2 separate regions of the Homo sapiens genome follow, and region 1 is linked to region 2. The links come from fine-mapping of genetic effects on gene expression. A gene starts in region 2. The other region holds a variant in brackets. All regions are shown on one strand. Distances are between the middles of the regions. Region 1 overlaps UBP1 (upstream binding protein 1). Region 2 holds the start of FBXL2 (F-box and leucine rich repeat protein 2).

Region 1 (3,032 bases), 120 kb before region 2:
ATAATAATAATAATAATAATAATAATAAAAATTAGCCAGGCATGGTGGCGTGTGCCCCCACCATAGTCCCAGCTACTTAGGAGGCTGAGGTGGGAGGATTGCTTGAGCCTGGGAGGCAGAGGCTACAGTGAGCTGTGATTGTGTCACTGCACTCCAGCCTGGGCAACAAAAAAGGACACTGTCTTAAAAAAATAAACAAAAAGAACTATGACTCTTTTAGGGTTCTTTTTGTATATTGCTAGAAATACATGAAGTATATATTATTTTTAAAAACAGCTTTCTTCAGGCATAATTTACATACCATAAAGTCCTCCCATTGTAAGTATATAATGGTATTTTAGCCAATTTAGAGAGTTTGGCAGCCATTGTCAAAATTCAGTTTGAGTTCCATTATTTCAAGAAGATCCCCCATGTCCATTTGCAGCCAATTCCTGTTTTTAAATTTTGAATACATGAAACTATATTCATTGAATAAAAATATGAAGAAAAATTCAAACCTCAAATCTTTTTGTCCAGGGATTTCTGTTAATGTTTATTAAATTATATTTGTGGATATAAATAATGTATTCTTACGTTTTAGATTGGTAGTTCAAGATTTCAAGGTAGTAAGATGGGGGAAAGAAATAGTTTATTCCCATTTAAAATGTTTTTTTACTTTTTTGGTACTTTGAAAGGTGTGACCTTCGTACAGATCCTACAGATCAGGCAGAAAACAGATCAAAGATTACTGTTAAAATGCTTTTCTTTTTTTTTTTTTAATTTCAGTTTATCATGCAATCTACTTGGAAGAAATGATTGCCTCAGAAGTTGCTCGAAAACTTGCGCTGGTGTTTAATATCCCTCTCCACCAAATTAATCAGGTTTACAGACAGGGTCCCACCGGTATTCACATTCTTGTTAGTGATCAGGTAAATCAAATCATTTGTTTTTCCTTTTCAGACTGGTATTTACTTTTATACATGTAATTGTAGAACTGTAGAAAAATTCTGTGACCTCTTTTGAAAATACTTATGAGAATCATTTTCAGAGAGTTGGGAATCACTTTGGAAGAACTTATAACCAAGAGTTTCAGGCATCCTAGTGATAATATGGAATACAAGCCAAGGAAAACTGGCTTAGCCTCCCCCCAGCCCTTTAGGATGCAGCCAATCACTGGGGCACTCTAGGGATAGTGGCAGGCTTTGGCCCTTTTTATGAGGTGAGTCACTGGATGTGTTTTCCTTTTGTCTATTATTTGATGACTAATTTAAAAAAACATGTAAGATATATAATTTTTCCCCTAGTGATTGGTGGCAAGTAATAATAGAAGAGCACTTTATGCAATTTTTGTTCGAGTCATCATCCACTGGAGCCGGCAGGGAATGTGCCCCTGTGGGTCACATGGGTGACTGACCAGGTCTCTCAGGGACCATTATGGACAGGCATAGTGAACACAAGGCAGTGCAGCACGTGTGCATCTTTGCTGCCTCACACTGCCTTCATGAATTATCGTTTTGGCCATTGAGTCCTGTGTTTGTTTGAGAAGAATATTTACTGTTTTAAAATCATTTTAAGAAACGACAGTTGGATCTTAATTGTACTTA[C/T]GCATTTACTTTATCCTTCCAGATGGTTCAGAATTTTCAAGATGAGAGTTGTTTTTTATTCTCCACAGTAAAAGGTACTTTGCATGTGTGTGTGTCTTAAAATGCTGGAATCATGAGAGATGGTGTGTGCCTCTAATTAGTGCCTCTCGTGTTTATTCTTTAAAATGATTGCTTTACTCATTTTAAGAAGAAAGTTTGATAAATGAGAATATTTCTAGTGGTTGTAACAGAAATTAGCATATAAGGAAGAGGAGTCAGTCTTTCTAGATGACTGGAAAAAAAAATCTCAATTCATTCAGCCAACGTCTTACTGAGCACTTTGTGTCAGACACCGTGCTTCTGTCGCTCAGTGGATCTATTGAATAAAACAGAATCCATGAAACTCCTATTGGGGAAAGCAAACCAAAATTGGCCAAGAGATACACAAAATTCCCAATATGTTAAGTTCCATGAAGGAACAGGAAAGTGTGGGGGTACTTATGGATAAGGGAGATCTGGGTTGAGGGGAATATGAAACTGTAAGGCAAGGCTTCTCTGAGGAGGTGTTATTAATCCTGAGACTTGAAGAATGAGAAGAAGCGGGAGCTGGCCATTGGATTAGCATCCCCAGGCAACGTGGGGCTGTGTGCAAAGAAAACACCTGGCTTCTTGGAAAGCCTGGCAGTGGGCCATGTAGGTGCCATGCAGTGTGTGAGGGTGAGCGGATCAGGGCAAATCAAAGCAGGAGGCCGGGTCTGGCATGCGGGGACCGGATGATGATGGTAGTTCGGATTTACTTGAAATGCATTGGGTTGTCACTGAAGTTGTTTAAACAAAGGAGTAGTAATGTGACTAGATTTTTCTTTCACTTTCACAACTCTGTGGAGACAGATGAGAAGGTGGCAAAACGAGGCAGGAGATATCCAGGTGAAAGGTGATGGTATCTTACACGTTTATAGACAGGGTCCCAGTGGGCTCCACTTTTGAGGGAGGAATAGTTCTGACACCTTATTTTCTGTGGAAAGTAACTGGGCAGATGGTGATCTCATTGAAGAGGTAAGTATGGTTGGGGTAAATCAACCAAGAGTTTGATTTTGGATATGTAGAAATGTCAAGTAGGCAGTTGACTATTACCAGTCTGGGGCTCAGAGAAGAGGCCTGGGCTTGAGATGTAAATTTGGAAACCTTCAGCATATCAGCAGTGACTCAAAGCTGTAGAAGTTGTTAAGGTCATTTAGGGAGAGAATATGAAAAGAGCCAGGACCAGGCTTAGGTGGCTCCAACATTAAAGAGGAGGGATTCCTAAATGTAAAATTATTTGAGAAGAGATCATACATTCATAGACTGTTTTAAAAGTCAGGTGAGCTAAGATCCAAATCCGGTCTTAGCACAAAAGCTGCCCCTAGAAGAGGGAGATGTCATGTGTGTCAGGTGTCCCCAGACTACTGAAATACTGATTTTATTTTGCGC
Region 2 (2,500 bases):
TTCAGAGAGCTGTGAAAAATTAATTCCTGGATATTCTTTCTCCTTGCTACAATTGTTAGGGCTTTTCTCACATATAACATATTACAGTAAATTACTGCAATATTTGAAACACTTATATCTTCATAAAATTCAGTTTCTGAAACTCTTGCCAGCTCCATTAATTTGTCACTTAAAAAGCAATTCGCAATTTAAAAAAGAAACATACACAAAATAAAGGCATTACATGGTACTGTGATTTATGGGTGATGTTTTTCTCCTGCCAGCAATAATGCCACACATTTGGAAGTTGCTTTTCCAGAGTCAATGAGAGACACCATCCACCTCCCACCACCATCCCTCTCCTTGGTTATTAAGAAAAAAACTGAGCCAGCCAGGATTCCTAATGATAGTTTTTTCTCCATGAGGCCAGCTGGCACTCGGGGAGCACCCTGCATTCTCAGCTCATCAGCACTTCCACTAAACTCCTGCAGATAAGGAGAAAATCTCCACTTAATTACTCATGGTTAAAACAAAACTAAGTATTTCCCTATTACCTACACCTACCGCCATACCTCCTCAAGTATTCTATACCAAGGGTGTGTCCCCAAGCAAGGAGTCTAGCTCCTCTCTTCTCTTACACCCCGTGAAGGCCTCTGGAGAATTATGCCTTCGGTTGGCAATTCTCTGAACTTGTCTGTTCAAGCCAGCACCTCCGCCGAGTGAAACCGAGCAACGTTTTTAAAACGAGCTTAAAGGGGGCCAGGTGTTATGCCCACGCCGTCTGAAGTTAACTGAACAAAGGTAATGATTTAAGACGTTTACAATGCACTAATTATGAATTAATTAAATCCCTTAGTGAGGGTGCGGCACTCAGAAAAAAAAACCCTCCAGCTTAATGCCCTCTATTTTTTAGAAAGGAGGGGAGGGGTCTCTAAAATCAAAAATTTTAATTTCCACGTGCTAAAAAACCTATCAGAATGCTGATTTTGAAAGGAAGATATATGTCTTATATTAGTTACACATAACTGCATAGAAACAAAACTGGAGGCATATAGACTGCTTTAGTGTAAATATAAATACATATGATATCCATATACAAGATTTTTTTTTTTAACCACACCCTCCTTGGGTGGCTTCCCAGGCTCTCTCGGGCCAAACAGCGTCACGTCGTCCGGCGGCCCACTGGGTGGGGGTCCGGGCTGTCACCCCGACTCCAGCGGCAGGGAACGCTGCATCGCGGTCGCCCCCCGGCAGGCGGGCGCTCTGAATCCCCCAGGTTACCCCTCCCCGGGCCCGCCCAGCCCTGCCCTGCCCAGCAGCCTCGCAGGCCGCGGCCCGGCCTCTCCACGACCCCTGCGCCGCCTGCCCGACCCTAGCGGGCGGCGGCGTGCGGACCCAGCCCGGTAGGGGTAGGGCGGGGCAGCTAGGCAGACGCGGGTCCCAGACTCACCATGGCCGAAGAGCCGCGAGCGAGCCCACAGCCCGAAGTCACACGGCGCCGGCGACGCCCGTTGTCCTGGTGACGCCAGCCAGGCGCCCCGCCCCGTCCCCAAGGTGGGCTCGGAGGCGGCCATTGGTGGTCGGCGAGCACGTGACCCGCAGGGGCGGTGCCCTTTGGACCGCCCACCCCTCGCCCCCGGCCCTGGAACTGGGCCTCTTCGCCTCTCCCACTTCGTATCTGGTCCATCCTCTCAGTCTGATCACCTTGATGTCCCTCACCTGACAGATTACCCAGCCGCAGACTGCCCAGCTGAAAGAGACCATGGATTTTTTTTTTTTTAAAAAAAACGTTATACAGGTAATGCATGATTATTGAAAACATTTTAAATTACCAATAACAAGAATTTAAAAGGATAAAACGACACTCACCCCAGCACCTGAAGTAGCTACTGCTCAGATTCCATTCTATCTGCTTCAAGCTTCCAATGAGTTGTTATAATATACTGTATTCTTAAAAATGGTGGCAAACCATAGGTAACTGTTTTATAATCTACTTTTTTAGATTAAAAATGATTATCTTGGGGCCAGGCGCAGTGGCTCACGCCTGTAGTCCCAGCACTTTGGGAGGCCGAGGCGGGCGGATCACGAGGTCAGGAGATCAAGACCATCCTGGCTAACACGATGAAACCCCATCTCTACTAAAAATACAAAAAATTAGCCAGGCATGGTGGGGGACGCCTGTAGTCCCAGCTACTCGGCAGGCTGAGGCAGGAGAATGGCGTGAACCCGGGAGGTGGAGCTTGCAGTGAGCTGAGATCACACCACTGCACTCCAGCCTGGGCGACAGAGCAAGACTCCGTCTCAAAAAAAAAAAAAAAATTATTATCTTTGCATACCACTTAATGGAATAGCATTCTATGCATGTTGTCTAATTCATTAAATCAACTGGCAATTTGTTGAATGTTTTTAATATGGTTGAAGGGAACTCTAGATATCCTGAAATCTAGTCCATTAACTCTATGAAGAAGGACCCAGTGCGATGGGACACTTGTAGTTCCAGCACTTTGGGAGGCTGAAGCAG

What was found.
Region 1: its variant is fine-mapped to the expression of FBXL2 in thyroid (GTEx, PIP 0.97). The same link has a PIP of 0.9 or more in nasal epithelium.

Annotation. Positions count from the first base shown.
Region 1 is chr3:33,391,188-33,394,219 of GRCh38, reverse strand. UBP1 (upstream binding protein 1) reads left to right here. Exons shown (of 16, transcript NM_014517.5): 14 at 766-908; 15 at 1,606-1,657. It also overlaps a transcript of FBXL2 not described here. Among named protein-coding and RNA genes, the nearest start is that of UBP1, 48 kb to the left of the region's middle. The variant C/T (reference allele first, on the strand shown) is at 1,584.
Region 2 is chr3:33,276,445-33,278,944 of GRCh38, reverse strand. It overlaps FBXL2 (F-box and leucine rich repeat protein 2), which reads right to left and starts at 1,503. Exons shown (of 15, transcript NM_012157.5): 1 at 1,430-1,503. The coding sequence starts at 1,432. LOC124909362 (a long non-coding RNA gene) reads left to right here and starts at 1,591. Exons shown (of 2, transcript XR_007095861.1): 1 at 1,591-1,777. RefSeq lists silencers at 1,233-1,412, 1,381-1,548, 1,613-1,682.